2 separate regions of the Homo sapiens genome follow, and region 1 is linked to region 2. Evidence: fine-mapped expression QTL. Tissue or cell type: whole blood. Region 2 holds a variant in brackets; the other region holds the start of a gene. All regions are shown on one strand. Distances are from middle to middle.

Evidence for each region. PIP is the estimated chance that this variant, and not a neighbour inherited with it, causes the effect.
Region 1: PASK starts here. The variant in region 2 is fine-mapped to the expression of PASK in whole blood (INTERVAL, PIP above 0.99).

What each region holds. Positions count from the first base shown.
Region 1 is chr2:241,144,745-241,152,744 of GRCh38, reverse strand. PASK (PAS domain containing serine/threonine kinase) reads left to right here and starts at 3,273. Exons shown (of 18, transcript NM_015148.4): 1 at 3,273-3,331. It overlaps PPP1R7 (protein phosphatase 1 regulatory subunit 7), which reads right to left and starts at 2,278. Exons shown (of 10, transcript NM_002712.3): 1 at 2,198-2,278. The coding sequence starts at 2,249. RefSeq lists silencers at 1,857-2,196, 3,327-3,686, 3,747-3,806, 3,857-3,906 and enhancers at 2,487-2,646, 4,160-4,319.
Region 2 is chr2:241,098,887-241,106,886 of GRCh38, reverse strand. MTERF4 (mitochondrial transcription termination factor 4) reads left to right here and starts at 4,600. Exons shown (of 4, transcript NM_182501.4): 1 at 4,600-4,634; 2 at 6,993-7,491. The coding sequence starts at 4,614. PASK (PAS domain containing serine/threonine kinase) reads left to right here. Exons shown (of 18, transcript NM_015148.4): 18 at 164-788. The coding sequence ends at 321. RefSeq lists enhancers at 4,274-4,813, 4,814-5,353. The variant G/TG (reference allele first, on the strand shown) is at 4,836.

The DNA of each region.
Region 1 (8,000 bases), 46 kb before region 2:
CTCTTTTGGAAGTCTGTCTGGAAAACATGAGGCACTAACACATTACTTGGAATTATCAACCATACTGAAAATACTCTTTCCTGACTATGGTTTATCTACAAAGAGATGTGCTCTTTGAGGGAAAAAGTTCAACTTCATCTTTGTACTTCCCGCTTAGCCTAGCAAAGTAAAACCCAAGAAAGGATTGCTGTAGAAAACAAGTCCTTATAAAACCCACCTCCAAAACCTCCAAATCCATCTCTTCTTCCCTACCCCCGCAATGACGGTGGCTCACTTACTTATTAGCTGCAGCCTGGGCTCCTGCCCTGCCTCCTAACTCGTCTCTGTGACTTGTCTTGCCCTGCTTAACCTATTCTCCCCTGCCAGAGAGTCTGATCTAATTCTAAAATCCAAATCTGATCTTTTGAGTCCAAAAGTATTTCTGGAATGCTCTTCCTGAGTTTGCATCTTGCTGCTAGAGATGCAGCTTTGGCAAATCGTTTCCATTTGAAAGCCTCAATCTCCTAGTCTGTGGAAGGGAGCTAGTATAGCACCTATGCCTCAGCAAGTTGCTGTCACGGTTAAATTAGAAAAGGCACAAGAGCAGTTAGCACGTGCATGACATGCAGTAGATATATAACAAATTAGTCACCACCAGGCACAGGTCACTTGGTGGTCCAGGCTCAGGGAGAGAAAGTTCTACTGCATGACAATCTGGCACAAAAACCCCAGTAAGAGGAGGAGTGGTGTGAGGTTAGCAAAGGCTTAGCTAACGAAGGTTGGCCAAAGTGAAGCCTGAGGGCAGCAGAGAGGGTCTGGAACATGGGACAGTGGCTCTGCATGTAAGAAAATGACTTTGGTGTACTGGGGATGATGGGCTGGTGAACAGGGACAATCAATCTAGCCTAGAGATGATGAAGGTCTGAGTTAAGGTACTGGCAATGGGAATGGAGGACGTATCGGAGATTTGGAGATACTTTCAAAAGTAAAAGTCAGAGCTCCTTGACTAACAGGACATGGGTGGGAGTGGGACAGTGAGAAAAGCCGGGCTTTTATATCTGTCATTTACCAAGACATGGAAACAGCTGAAGAGGGAGTGGGAGGATATGAAGAGGCGCTTCTTAAAAAGACTCAAAGGGTATGAAGTCCAAGACCCTTAACACTACCGCCCCCATCCCCACCACATACGATTTGGTCAAACTCTCCTCCACACCTTTTGACAGCAGTTTTCTCCGTCTTGAGTGATTCTTGCTCTTTTCCCTCACCCTATCCCCAACCTCGTTGCCTTCGAGTTATTCTTCAGGCTCCAGCTCAGAGCTCGCCCTGCTTCTGCAGCTGTCACCACTCCCTAACATGTCAGGCCTTCCTGCTGCACCCGCCCTCCTTCCCCAGCTCCACATTCCTCTTCCCTACCCCTTTCACATAAGGCAGTGACTGCTCTTCTGGGAGGTCTGTACCCCTCACCAAACCATGGGACCCAAAAGTACTTAAGCTGATGACACAACTGATTCCCCAGTTGCTAAGTGGGTGTGTGCACGCATTTTTACACACATACTGTACGTGCACGTATATGACTGTACCTACAGATATGCAGAAAATTATAAACACATGTGTACGTATAACATATACATATATGCATGTGGTTTTTTTTTCCAACAAAGTGAATGAGGAGGAAGAAAGTTGAATTCAGACTTTTTGGAACTATGACAGCTTTGAAAACAGGTATCACCTTGTGTAACTCAATCTTCCGGTTCCTTGTTACCCCTTCCCAACAGTCCATTCGATTTCAAGAGAAGACCCTTCTCCACCCTCACCACGTGAACCAAGGAGCAGACTCTGGTAGATCCCAGCGCCTCAGTTTCCTCGTCAGCTGACCGAGGAGGCTCCCCCGCCCGTCAATCTCAGAGGCTCGGGGCGAGGCTCCAACTGGACTGAATGGAGCCACCGCGTCCCATTCAGCCCCACCCCCGGCCTGGCCTCGCGCCGCCGCTCTCCCCCTAGCTCTGGGTCCTTCCCGGCCGCTGCCGCCCCCGGGCCGGGGCTCCCCCGAGGTCCAGCGCCTCCCCCGCTCCCCCGGGTCCGGCTGTCAGCTGTCAGGGGGCCGCGCGGCGGCGGCCAGAGGCAGGACGTGGAGTTTCTCTCAGGCACGGAGCAGTTCCAGCCCGCAGCTCCCCCCGCCCGCTGGGCCCTTGGGCCGCCGCCCGCAGGGGCCGCTCACCCTCCATCATCTCCTGCGACTGTTGCTGCCCCGCGCCGCGTTCCGCCGCCATGTTGGCTGCTCTTCCCCTTTCCGGAATCTGTCGCCTCAGACCCCTCAGCCAATCAGGGCTCCCGCCTCAGAGCCGGCCCTGCCAATGGGATTCCGGCGCGGCGACTTCAGCCGCGCCGCGCCTGCGTGGGCCCAGCGCCTCATGGGAGTTGTAGTTCCGTCATGAGGCCGCGCGCCGCGCCTCCCCCAGAGCAGGTAATTTCAGGCGGCGGAGCCGGAACAGTCTGGAGGCGAGAAGCTGGGAAGGAAAGCAGAGGGAGTCGAAGCGGGACGCACAGAGCCGTAGCTGCAGGCAGACGGAGTGGACGTCTAGGCAGAGTGGAGAGACGCCCTGGGCTTGAGAGTTGACTTATGTCACTGTCTCGACCTCGGAGGCGTGGAGGGGCCGCGGGCCAGGCGGATCTTTCCGTGGCTGCAAGGTGCGGGCCAGTCCTACGTGCATCCCTGACCTCTGCGAGCCTCGCTGGCTGCGTCTGTACAATGGGCCGAACGGCAAGAGCAACAACATTCTCCCGGCGTCCCCGCGCGGATTTTACCCATGCGAAATGCCGCCTTCTCTTGACGCTCGGAGCAGGCGGGCAGGTGCGGGGCACTTGCGCTGGTGGGGCCGCTAGCCAGCTGGCTGGCTCCGGGGCGCCAGCTGGGCTCCCCTTGCAAGTCGTTCCCAGCCCAGTGCGGACGCTGCAGCCTTCGTCTACCCTGCGGAGCCACCCGGCCCATGAACGAGCCGCCCCGCGTCCTCCGCCTTCAGAAAGAGGCCTCCAAGAGGCGAGCTCTGCGCTACTCACCCATTTTGATCGCGAGTCGGGAGGAAACCGCATCTGCCCGGCCCGGGGGCGGAGGCGCCCATTATTCCTTTGGCTCCTCCGAAGCGCCGTAGGGGTGTTTGGTGCGTCCCTAGCAACCCTTAGCGCGGGCTTCTAGACTCTGGCTAGCTTAGTCCCGCCCATACGCGCAAGTGGCTGGTCCGTGGAGCTTGTCAATCGGTGCTAGTCGCTGTGCGATTGGTCGGTGGGATAAAAGCGCGGAAGGGCTCCTTTCCGTGGTGTGTAGCCGGCTTGGCGTGACCCTCGCCTGATCCAGGTGAGATACCTGCGCTCGGGAGAGCGGGCCGGGCTCCGCCATCTCCCCAGGGCGGCTGTGGGGCCTGCGCGGCTCCGCGCCCCTGGCCCAGGAGGATCCGCCGCCCGACTCTTAGACCAGCCCGACCCCGGGTCTCCCGCCCCTGCGCCCGTCGCCCTTCGCGCACCGCCGAGCCCGCGTCCTCTCCGTGCCCAAATCGCGGCGGGGTTGCGGCCGTTGGCCCTGGGCCCCGCGCCCCCAGCGTCTTCGGGGTGCCCTTCAGTGTAGCCTGCCCGGTGGGCGCCGAGGCCCCGCGCCTCGGGTCGCCTCGGGACCCTGCGCTCTCTTCACCGCAGCCGGCCCTGCGGGGCGAGCTCCAGGAGAACCAGCCCGGATCCCGCCAGCCTCCTGCACTGGGCGTGTGGGTCCCTGCGGGCTCAGCCGGCGCCGCGGGGTCGGGGGCGCGCGCCGCCGGCGCTCGTGGTTACAGCAAAGACCTGGACTTGAGCCTTAATTTTTTCACTAATTTTTCTTTCCCAGAGTACGGCAGGGGCCTGCGCTGCCGTCTTGAGGCCTTTCTCGTCCTTACCTTCCGCATCTCAGTACCATTCGATGTCCATTTTTCTCTTAGGGGTTCCCTCTCTTCATCTTTCTGCTGCTACCTTAATTTAAGACTTTATAATTTCTTGCCTGGATTACTGTAGCCTTTCTCCTGCTTTCCAGCCTTGCACCGACATGGTCCCTGGAGTAATCTTTGTAAAATGCATATCTGGCCATGTTACTCCTAAGCATTGAATCCTTAAAAGTTCATTTTGGGGATAAAATTAAGACTTTGGGCAGGCATAGGAGGCTCTGGGCTCATGCTTGGCCCTTCCAGGCCCACGTCCACCTACTCTTCTGGGTACTGAACTCCTCTCTGGGAGGCTTTGCCTCTGAAAGACTTCTTCACTCTGCTTGGTAGGGCCCGGCTCTGCAGGTGCCTCCTCCAGGACTGACATCCTTGCTGTGTTCTACTGCACTGTTCACCTTGTTGGCCTCATCCTGAAACTGGTTCTCCTTTTTGTTGTACAGCTGTGCTGACAGCAATGGGAGCTGTTTGCTTCTTAGCTTATGTTCTGGTGGGAGGGGGACAGTTGCTTCTAGAAGTTCGCCGAGATGCTCCCTGCAAAGTTGTCCTTGCTTCTGTTTGGTCTGAGGTGGGGTCACTTGTGTCTTCTGGAATCAAAACTAGCAATGGGAATATGGTTACTCGGTGGCACCATTAGGTGCTGTCTGCTGGGTTTGGGTTCCCGTGTCTGCAGCTCACAGTGGATACAAAGGACAATTTTAAAAATTTGGGCCTGGACGTGCAGGTATTTCTGGTTAACGTCTGAGTCAAAATTTAGTGATCTAAGGTCATGTGAAGCCAGACTCTGTTCTTTCTTGAGGCCAGGCTGTGGCTGTGGAGTGCACGGGAGGCTCCAGGGGCCTATGCTGTTCAGTGACAAACTGGCCCACGTGGACTTCAGATGCCCAGGAGGCACAGCGGGAAAAAGGATGCATCTTTCCTGCTGTCCTCCCCGCTCCCGCAGAGGGTCCCATCAGTTTCCCTCCTGGATAGGCTTGTAACTCTCAGTAACCTAATTAAACTTCCACAACTTTAGTTGGTATTTATTTACTTTCTCCCATGAAGGACAAAAAATTGCATGCCCTTACCCTCCCTTTGCTTTTTTTCCCCCTTTCCATTTCATGTTAGTTACTTTTACAAAGAAACTTCTGTAACATTTACAATATATTCTGAATAGTTATATTACTTTTTTATTATTTTATTTTTTGAGACAGGGTCTTGCTCTGTGGCCCAGGCTGGAGTGCAGTGGTGCTGTGTCCTCTCACTGCAGCCTCCGCCTCCTGGGCTGAAGCGATTCTCCCACCTCAACCTCCCAAGCAGCTGGGACTACCAGCATGTGCCACCACACCTTGCTAATTTTTAATTTTTTTTTTGTAGAGATGGGGTCTCCCTATGTTGCCCAGGCTGATCTCGAACTCCTGGGCTCAAGTAATCTGCCTGGCCTCCCAAAGTACTGGGTATATGACTTTTTAAAATAGTTTTGTAACATTGACATTGCAGTCTGAAGAGTTATATTTTTTAGGAATTAAAGTTTTCTAACAATGTATTCTGAAGAGTTATATTACTTTTTTAAGAAAGTAAGGTTTTACAACATTTACAATGTATTCTGAAGCTATAATTAAGTGTCCTGAGCTTTGTCTATAGGTTGGTTCTAAAAGTAGAAAAAACTGCCTCACACTATAATCATGTCATTGTTATTTATTATGGCAATAATTAGTGCATTTGGATGCTTAGAGAAGGAGATGTAAACCTGTAACTAAAGGTCCCATTCATTGTTGCTGCTTGTAGGAAAGCTGCACACTCGAACCCCAAACCCTATATGTAATAGCTTCCTACACATCTGCAGGTTTGCAGAGCCTTTGCCTTCCAGGGTCCTAGGCTGGGTTTGTGTGTGAATGTCTCTGAATTTTTTGGCCGTATCAGTTTATTCATACAAAAGAATAAAGGCAGTGTTAGTCATGAATTGTACCAGCAGAGTGGATGCATTTGAACCCATCACCCTAGGAAATCAGGGGACCTGTGCCCTTGTGCCTCTTCCCCACTCTTGCACCTGCCTGACCCAGAGGGAACCACCTGCCTGAAATTTAGGTTTACCAGTCTCTTATTTAAGAAGTAGTTTAATTACATAGGTGTGTTTCCCTGAACTACTTATTTAGATTATTTCATGACAAAGGAATCCTCCTGCTGATTGTCTTCCGTAACTTGATTTTTTCCACTCGTATATGGCTAAGATTCACCCTTGTGTGTAGTTTATTTGTTTTCACTGCTGTAATTAGTGGTATGAATATACCAGAATTTAAAATCTATCTTCTTGTTAAAGAGTGTTTGGGTTTCATTTCCTTTTTTCCTCCCTCTCTCCCGCACTCCCTCCCTTTCTTCCCTCCCTTTTTTCTGCCTGTCTCTTTGCCATTGAGAACCATATTGTCCCGAACATTCTGGTGTCTTCTTATCTGTTTGCAAAAATTTCTCTGAAATATAAATCTAAGTGAAAAGTGCTGTATCCATATAGACAAATGTTTCACTTGAATTGTTTTCTAAAGAGATTATATTAATGTATTAAGAGTTCCTGTTGATCCAAATCCTTTTTGACATTGGGTATTACTAGATTCTTCATTTCTGCTGACTTAGTAGGTATAACATCATCATGATTAGGATTTCCTCTCCTGTAAAACGCTTGTTCCTATTTCTTGACATTTTTTATTGGGCCATGTGTCTTTTAAAAATGTTTAAATTTTAAATAGTTGATCTTTTAAAGCTATTCTGGATATTAATTTTCTGTTGGTTATGTATGTGGCAAATATCTTCTCCCAAATTGTGGCTTGTTCTTTCGTTTTCTTTATGGTATTCTTTGTGAAGCTGTGTTCTCATTTTTTTTTTTCTTTTTTTTGGGGGGGACGGAGTCTCGCTGTGTCGCCAGGCTGGAGTGCAGTGGCGTGATCTCAGCTCATTGCAACCTCCACCTGCCAGGTTGTGTCGCCAGGCTGGAGGGCAGTGGTGTCATCTCGGCTCATTACAACCTCCACCTCCCAGGTTCAAGCGATTCTCCTGCCTCTGCCTCCAGAGTAGCTGGGAATACAGGTGTGTGCCACCATGCTCAGCTAATTTTTTTTTTTTTAGTAGAGATGGGGTTTCACCACATTGGTCAGGATGGTCTTGATCTCTTGACCTCGTGATCTGCTTGCCTCGGCCTCCCAAAGTGCTGGGATTACAGGTGTGATGTGTTCTCAATTTTAACGTTAAACTTATTAATCTTATTTTATAGCTAGAGTTTTTTGTGCCTTGTTTAAGAAAACTTTCCCTACCCCAAAGTCTTACAGATAGCCTCTTTTCTCCTAAAAACTTAGTGATTTTATTTTATATTTTATTTGGTTTGACAGGTCTCGCTTTGTTGCCTAGGCTGGCCTCCATCTCCCTGGGCTCAAGCAATTATCCTGCCTTAGCTTCTAGAGTGGCTCGGACTATAGGTGCAGGCCACGAGACCTGCCTGGCTAAAAAGTTTAGTGTTTTGACTTCCACAGATCAGATCTTTTATGCCCTGGGCACCATAGTGAGACCTCATCTCCTAGTTAAAAAAAAAGATGGCCATGTGAAGATACATACAAACAGGGAGAAGTCGGCCGGGCGCGGTGGCTCACGCCTGTAATCCCAGCAGTTTGGGAGGCCGCAGCAGGTGGATCACGAGGTCAGGAGATCGAGACCATCTTGGCTAACACGGTGAAACCCTGACTCTACTAAAAATACCAAAAATTAGCCAGGCGTGGTGGCGGCTGCCTGTAGTCCCAGCTACTCGGGAGGCTGAGGCAGGAGAATGGCGTGAACCCGGGAGGCGGAGGTTGCAGTGAGCCGAAGTCGCGCCACTGCACTCCACCCTGGGCGACACAGCGAGACTCTGTCTCAAAAAAAAGAAACAAACAAACAGGGAGAAGCTCTGTGATGGCGAAGGCGGAGACTGGAGTGACGCAGCTGCAGGTCAAGAACACCAAAGATGGCCAGTATGGCCAGTAGCCACCAGATGCTAGGATAAGGCAAGGAGGGGGGACTCCTTGGAGTTCCATATTGGAAGAGGTGGTGTTGGGAGGGCCA
Region 2 (8,000 bases):
AGATCCCCACCTTGGCAGGATCTGTACTTCCGGGACATTGCCAGTTGGATTTCTGAGGGCCTCACCTTAGGCTTTTGTTCTAGGACTTCTTCAAGTGAGAAGCAAAGTATTTTAGAACCTTAAGTTGTTAGCACGTGATACAGTTACCTTCTTGTTTCTTCAGAAAGTGGAGTTCTGTCCGCTGCGAGCCTGGAGATGGGGAACAGGAGCCTGAGTGATGTGGCCCAGGCTCAGGAGCTTTGTGGGGGCCCCGTTCCAGGCGAGGCTCCTAATGGCCAAGGCTGTTTGCATCCCGGGGATCCCCGTCTGCTGACCAGCTAAACACCAATTTCTTCCTGCTTTTCTCCACTTGGTTTGGAAAATCACACAGTTTTCAGGCTCCATCTGTTTGGAGAAAATACATTCTGAAGCATCCCCAATTCACCTTCTAAAAACTCATGTGCAGGTTTGATAAACACCAGAACAGAAGACAGTGATGCTGTATTATTTTAGATTTATTACATAGATTTGGAATTCACTTTTTTCATGACCTAGAAAAAAACATTCCAGTGTTCAACTGTTTTATATTATTAAAGGGCTTTTAATTTGTGAACTTCTGAAGGCATGAGTGTTTTCTCTTTCTACTTTTGTATATGTGCATGTTTTGTTTCCTCTGACTTGGTATATGCTCATCTGAGTGACGGATATGTGAAATTTGTAGAACTGGTTAGTCAAATGGCCAGACTATTTCATTAATTTATTTCCTCAAATGCTTTTCAAATTAAAGCACCTTTGTTAGTAAACAGTTATCCTGACTTGGATGTTGTGAACTGTTCCCGTGTGCTAAGTGTGAGAAATACCTGGTTTCCTCATTTTTCCATGTGTGCACCCCACTTGCCACAGTTGGAGAGAAGTCTAGCCTTGGCCATTCTGGGGTTCCTTTTACAAGCAGGCCCTGCCAGGGGTGGGCCTAGGGCTCTGAAGCTTGCTCCATCTGGTAAGACGGGGGAGGGTGGCTTCCTCAGGGACCTCCCTTCTGTCTGTAGCAAGACTCTGCTGTCAAACACGTGGCTGGCTCACTGCCAGCAGTCCCCAAATATCCCATGGCCAGCCAGCTCCCACCTCTGTCCACATGAGGGGCTTCCTGGCCCAGCCCCCACCTCTGGTCTGTGTGAGGGGCTCCAGCCCTGTATTCCTCCGAGCTGCTCAGGTTCCAGGGTGTTTGTCAGATACTCAACTGGCTGCTTCCCTCCCTTAGACTCCAGTCCATCCCCCTCAGACAGACTTGGCTAGGTCAAGTACTTAGGATTGTTTTATTTCATGTCTGTGTTAGAGAGGAGGGAATAGCTAGAGGTGAGAGCAGAACCTTTCATTTTTTTCCCCTGCTGAGACAGTAGGAAAAAAACCAAAAACCTAAACCCCTACCCTTTTCCCACATGTCATCACTTGCAGACGGTTTTTCCACATTCTGAGACTCCTGCCCAGAACCCTCTGGAAGCTGCCTGGGAGCCAGGCTGCCTCCTGCGTGGTTCTGAGCTATTTCTAGTGGTTATTTAGGAGGCACTCAACTGTTTTGGGATGATCAGAGTTAATTTTAGTCCCATCTAGTAGGATATGGGCTATTGCCATCCCTTTCTTCAGAAAGTGCTGCCTGAGCCTCGCTGCCACCACAAGTGACTGATGGAGTTGGTGGGGGAGGACCCTCCTCTATCAGGGACATTCAAGGTACAAGGGTTTTACAGGTGTGTATTAAAGTCAGTGATGTTCACTCTTCAGAATTCAAAGAGTTTTCTGATGTTTTAAGAACCCCTACCTTGTAGTGTTTATGGTGCTTATAACACAGAGGATGTTATAGAATGGTGTTTGTTTGTTTGTTTATTTATTTAGAGACAGAGTCTTATACTGTCGCCTGGGCTGGAGTGCAATGGTGCGATCTCAGCTCACTGCAACCTCCGCCTCCCAGGTTCAAGCAATTCTGCCTCAGCCTCCCAAGTAGCTGGGATTACAGGTGCCCACCACCACGCCTGGCTAAATTTTTGTATTTTTAGTAGAGACGAGGTTTCACTATGTTGGCCAGGCTGGTCTCAAACTCCTGACCTCATGATCCGCCCGCCTCGGCCTCCCAAAATGTTGGGATTACAGGCATGAGCCACTGCGTTCGGCCACAATGGTGTTTGCAGACAGGTGTTTAATGGGTTGAGAATGCATAGTCTGAGCTTTCTAAGAACTGTTACTTCTTTATAAGAAAAAATAATTAAAGCTCATCTGACTTCATGGCAGTGGAAGGTCTGGTATTTTGCAAACGTTCTTTGCAGAAAGAACCCAGAGAGGAAAGTTCTGAGGCTGAGGCTGACAATTTTTCCACTCCATTTTTTTTTTTTTTTTTAAGATGGAATCTTGCTCTGTCACCCAGGCTGGAGTGCAATGGTGCAATCTCGGCTCACTGCAACCTCCGTTCCCTGGGTTCAAGCAATTCTCCTGCCTCAGCCTCCCGAGTAGCTGGGATTACAAGTGTGCGTTATCACGTTACCTGGCTAATTTTTGTATTTTTAGTAGAGGCAGGGTTTCACTATATTGGCCAGGCTGGTCTCGAACTCCTGACCTCAGGTGATCCACCCATCTCAGCCTCTCAAAGTGCTGGGATTACAAGCATGAGCCACCGTGCCCAACCCACTGCATATTTTTAAAGTATGGTTCGAGAGAGCAAAGTTTTCACACAAGACTGAAGGTGATGTCAAATTTTTTTTTTTTTTTTTTGAGAAGTACTTTCGCTTTTGTTGCCCAGGCTGCAGTACAATGGCGTGATCTTGGCTCACTGCAACCTCCGCCTCCCAGGTTCAAGTGATTCTCCTGCCTCAGCCTCCTGAGTAGCTGACACTACAGGTGCCCACCACCATGCCTGGCTAATTTTTGTATTTTTAGTAGAGATGGGGTTTCACCATGTTTTCCAGGCTGGTCTCAAACCCCTGACCTCAGGTGATCTGCCCACCTCGGCCTCCCAAAGTGCTGGGATTACAGGCGTGAGCCACCACACCCGGGCTCATGTCAATTTTTCATAGTAATCCCCATGTCCCAGCTGTCATTTTATTTCTAGAGCTAGACAAACTGTTCAGGTTCCTTGATTCTTTCCAGGGAGTTGGGGTGGCTCATGGGATTTTCTTAGGCTTTTGGTGTAGCATTAACACAATTTATTGTGAGATGTTGACAGTTGAGTATTTTGAGAAGAAAATTACATTATAAAAAACAACAAAGGCAACCAATTTTTTTTTTCCTTTTGTTTTTTGAGACAAGGTCTTGCTCTGTTACGCAGGCTGGAGTGCAGTGGTGCAATCATGGCTCACTGCAGCCTCAACCTCCTGGACTCAAGTGATCCTCCCACTTCAGGCTCCTGAGTAGCTGGGACTACAGGTGCACGCCACTACTCCCGGCTAATTTTTTATTTTTTGTAGAGACAGGATTTTCCTATGTTGCTCAGGTTGGTCTTGAACTCCTGAGCCCAGGCAATCCCCCCCACCTCAGCCTCTCACAGTGCTGGGATTACAGGCGTGGGCCACTGCACTCTGCCAAAGCAACCAATTCTTTAGTTTCTACACGGATTAGAACCTTCCTTTTCTTTGACATAATCCTTTTGTCAAAAGACAGTTTTACATAAATTGTTTGGCACCCCACTCCATGCCTGGCGCAAAGCAGATATGTAAATGTGTGCCCATGCAAGAATCAAATCCTTTATGTCAGTCCAGAATGAAGTAGATAAAACAAGAAATGCTTATAAATTAAGGCTTTGGTGGCAGGATTTAGGCAGCTGAGAAAGCACACCTTTTTATTCTTCACAAGCATCACCTTGTGAAAGATGCCTACGCTCTTAGGTCGAGAGAGGAAATTTAAGAATGAATACACATTGGGCTAAAACTTTACTATATTTCATCCTAAGAGGGAACCAGACCTCGAAGTTGGGAAGGCTCTTGCTTATAAAGGGAAATGTGCCGTAATTCCTGTCATTTTACTTGGGTCTTTTAAAAACGGCAAATTCTCATCTTCCACTGGCTGAGAGTAAAAAGAAAGAAAAGCGGTAAAGACTTCTTTTTGTGCGTAGGTGGCCCCGGTGTTCACGCTGAATACAGATTTTTACACAATAAAATCTTAAATATCTCTACATGGAACGGAATCCATTTTTCCTGCCTCGGGAAGGATTTCTGCGCTCTCGGGTGAAGTTCCCGAAGCAAGGAACCAGTTCCCCTCTACCTGTACTCTTGAGAGGAATTCTCAGGTCATCTGAAACACAAGTATGGGCCAGGACGACCCATTCGTTCACGCGGCCCAGAGCTCTGCGAAACGGGACACGGCAGTGCAACGGGAACAACCGGACACCGAGGCCCCCGAAGGCTGAGGCCGCGGCAGAGGCGGCGGCACGGTGACGGGCGCGACTCCGGCCTTCCGGCTTTCTAAGGGGCGGCCCCGGGACACCTGAGCCCCGCGGGGCCGTGAACGCTCAGCACAGCTCCGGGCCGGAATCACGATCCACCACACCGCGCTGGCGCTGGGAACGGCGTCGGTGACGGACCGGGGGCCGGAAGTGAAGGACGGGGGAGGACCGCTGCTTCCGGCGCCGTAACTGCTGCCATCTTCTCCGCGCTATGGCTGCGTTCGGCCGTCAGGTAAGCTCGAGCTGGGCGCGCGGGCTTCTCCGGGTCGCAGGCGGGCGGGCAGCGACGCAGAGGAACCGCGGCCGCCGAGTGTTTCACGGCCAGGTCGTGGAGCCCTCCCGGAGGTCCGTGCACGCTGACCTGGTTTTGGCATCCTGGACCCGTGGCTCTGCTCAATTATTGTGGGATATAGAGTTGACATTTTTTTTTTTT[G/TG]AGACAAAGTCTCGCTCTGTCTCCAGGCTGGAGTGCAATGGCGCGATCTCGGCTCACTGCAACCTCCGCCTCCCGGGTTCAAGCAATTCTACTGCTTCAGCCTCCCAAGTAGCTGGGATTACAGGCGCCCGCCACCATGCCTGGCTAATTTTTGTATTTTTAGTAGAGACGGGGTTTCACCGTGTTGGCCAGTCTGGTCTGTAACTTCTGGCCTCAGGTGATCCACCCGCCTCGAACTCCCAAAGTGCTGGGATTACAGGCGTGAGCCACCGCGCCCGGCCTGAGTTGACTGTTGAACAAGAGTTTGAACTTCACAAGGAAGATAACATGTACTTTTCATTAAGAGGAAGCGGAATCAGCATAGAGGTCTTTAGGCTTGAGCCCAGTTCCACGGGCCGCGCCCGCTGACCCCAGCGACTGCCAGGTGTTCCTGGCGGAGGGAGCATCTGGACAGGGGAGGCTGGAGAGCAGCCAGAGCTTGGGCTTGGCAGGGTGGCCCCAGGGCGACAATCGATGACGCTGGAGAAGGGGTTGGGACCGATGTGAAGGTTTTAGAGCAGGGGTTCCCCAACCCCCGGTACCGTCCCTTGCCTATTAGGAACCAGGCTGCACAGCAGGAGGTGAGCGGCAAGTGAGCCAGCCAGACTGTATTTACAGCCGCTCCCTTCGCTGGCATTACCGCCTGAGCTCCGCCTCCTGTCAGACCAGCCGCCTTAGATTCTCACTGGAGCGCGAACCCTATTGTGAACTGCGCCTTTGAGGGGTCCAGGTTGCGCTCCTTATGAGAATCTGATGCCCGATGATCTGTCACTGTTTCCCATCAACCCCAGATGGCACCTCCTGGTTGTAGGAAAACAAGCTCAGGGCTCCCAGTGATTCTACATTATGGTGAGTTGTATAATTATTTCATCTTATATTACAACGTGAAAATAACAGAAATAAAGTGCACAACAAATGTAATATGCTTGAATCATCCTGAAACCCCTCACCAGTCTGTGGAAAAATTGTCTTCCATGAAGCCAGTCCCTGGTGCCAAAAACGTTGAAGACTGCTGGCTTAGAGTGCCTGGATGATTTGTGCATAGTTTGTTAAGCACCAGCCTGAACCACTGAAGACTTTTGAGGTCAACTGGAATTGTGTATGCAAGTTGACTAATTACTGTGACCCTTGAACAACACAGGGGTTAGGGGCACCAGACCGCCCCCACACCAGTTGAAAATCAGTGTATAACGTTTGACTCCTCCAAAACTCAACTACTAATAGCCTACTCATGACTGGAAGCCTTACCGACAACATAAACAGTTAACACATATCTTGTATATATATATATTGCATTCTGTATTCTTAAAGTAAGCTAGAGAAAAGAAAACGTTATTCAGAAAATCATAAGGGCAAAACCCCGTCTCTACAAAAAATACAAAAATTAGCAGGGTGTAGTGTGCACCTGTAGTCCCAGCTACTCAGAAGGCTGAGGTGGGAGGATTACCTCAGCCTGGGGAAGTCAAGGCTGCAGTGAGCCATGATTGCACCACTGCACTCCAGCCTGGGCAACAGAGTGAGACCCCCGTCTCAAAAAACAAAAAGAAAATCCTAAGAGAAAATGTATTTACTATTCATTAAGAGGAAGTAGATCCTCATAAGGTCTTTAGGCTGAAGAGGAGGTGAAGGAGAGTTTGGTCTTGGTGTCTCAAGGGTGGCAGAGGCGGAAGAAAATCCACATATAAGTGGATCCAAGCAGTTCAAACCCTTGTTGTTCAAGGGCCAACTCTGTATCCCACAAGATTCTTCTCGTGGAATGAATTTAAGAACATGAATCTGGAAAGTAGTCTGAGGTCCAGACTTTTCTGGCACACATGACCAGGTGGCCTAGAAATAGTTTTTCCCTCTTCCTCCATGTCCCTGCTCCCATCCTTAAAGCTGCAAAAGCTAACAATATTGTACCTGCTTGACTCCCATCTCTGTGGCCTTGAAATACCCTGTTCTTTGTGAGCTTCCTTCTCTGTAGGCTTAAGTTCAGATAGGATTTTGCAGATTGCTTATAAAAATTGTATGTTTGTGTGGAACCAAGGCAGTAAGTACTCTGGCTCAGAAGTCTTATGGTGTCCATTACACTGGAATAGTGAGGAATTAATTGTCTTTTGGTCCTGTGTCTTACAGGTCCTTGATTGGCACCGCCTGATCCCCCTCACCTGGGCCTGTATGGCTAGGCAGACTCCTCATCTTGGAGAACAGAGAAGGACGACAGCTTCTTTGTTGCGCAAACTGACTACAGCCTCCAATGGAGGGGTCATTGAGGAGTTATCTTGTGTTAGATCCAATAACTATGTGCAGGAACCAGAGTGCAGGAGGAATCTTGTTCAGTGCCTCCTTGAGAAGCAGGGGACTCCTGTGGTACAAGGGTCCTTGGAGCTAGAGAGGGTCATGAGTTCCCTCCTGGACATGGGTTTCAGCAATGCCCATATTAATGAATTGCTCAGTGTACGGCGAGGTGCCAGTCTTCAACAGTTGCTGGACATCATTTCAGAATTTATTCTCTTGGGTCTGAATCCAGAGCCTGTGTGTGTGGTCTTGAAGAAAAGTCCCCAGTTATTGAAACTGCCTATTATGCAAATGAGGAAGCGCTCCAGTTACCTGCAAAAGCTTGGGCTTGGAGAAGGTACAAGAAGTTGCAGATTTTGGCTGGGTGCGGTGGCTCATGCCTGTAATCCCAGATCTTTGGGAGGCCGAGGCAGGCAGATCACTTGAGGTCAGGGGTTCAAGATCAGCCTGGCCAACATGGTGAAACCCTGACTCAACTAAAAATAGAAAAATTAGCTGGGCTTGGTGGCACGCACCTGTAATTCCAGCTACTTGGGAGGCTGAGGCATGAAAATCGCTTGAACCCAGGAGGCGGAGGTTGCAGTGAGCTGAGATGGCGCCACTGCACTCCAGCCTGGGTGACAGCAAGGCTGTCTCAAAAAAAAAAAAAAAGATTTTATATAGTGTGACAGGAGCCAGAGGTGGGGAAAGAGCAGCCTAAGGTGAGATGGATTAGGGGAGGTTTCTGAGTATGTCAGTGTTCCTGGAGAGGACTGTATAATTTGGCTTGGAGGTGAGGAATAGGAGTGGCTTTCTGTGCAGAATACATTTTGAGAGGGAAGGAGGAGGAGTTAAGACTAGAAGAAA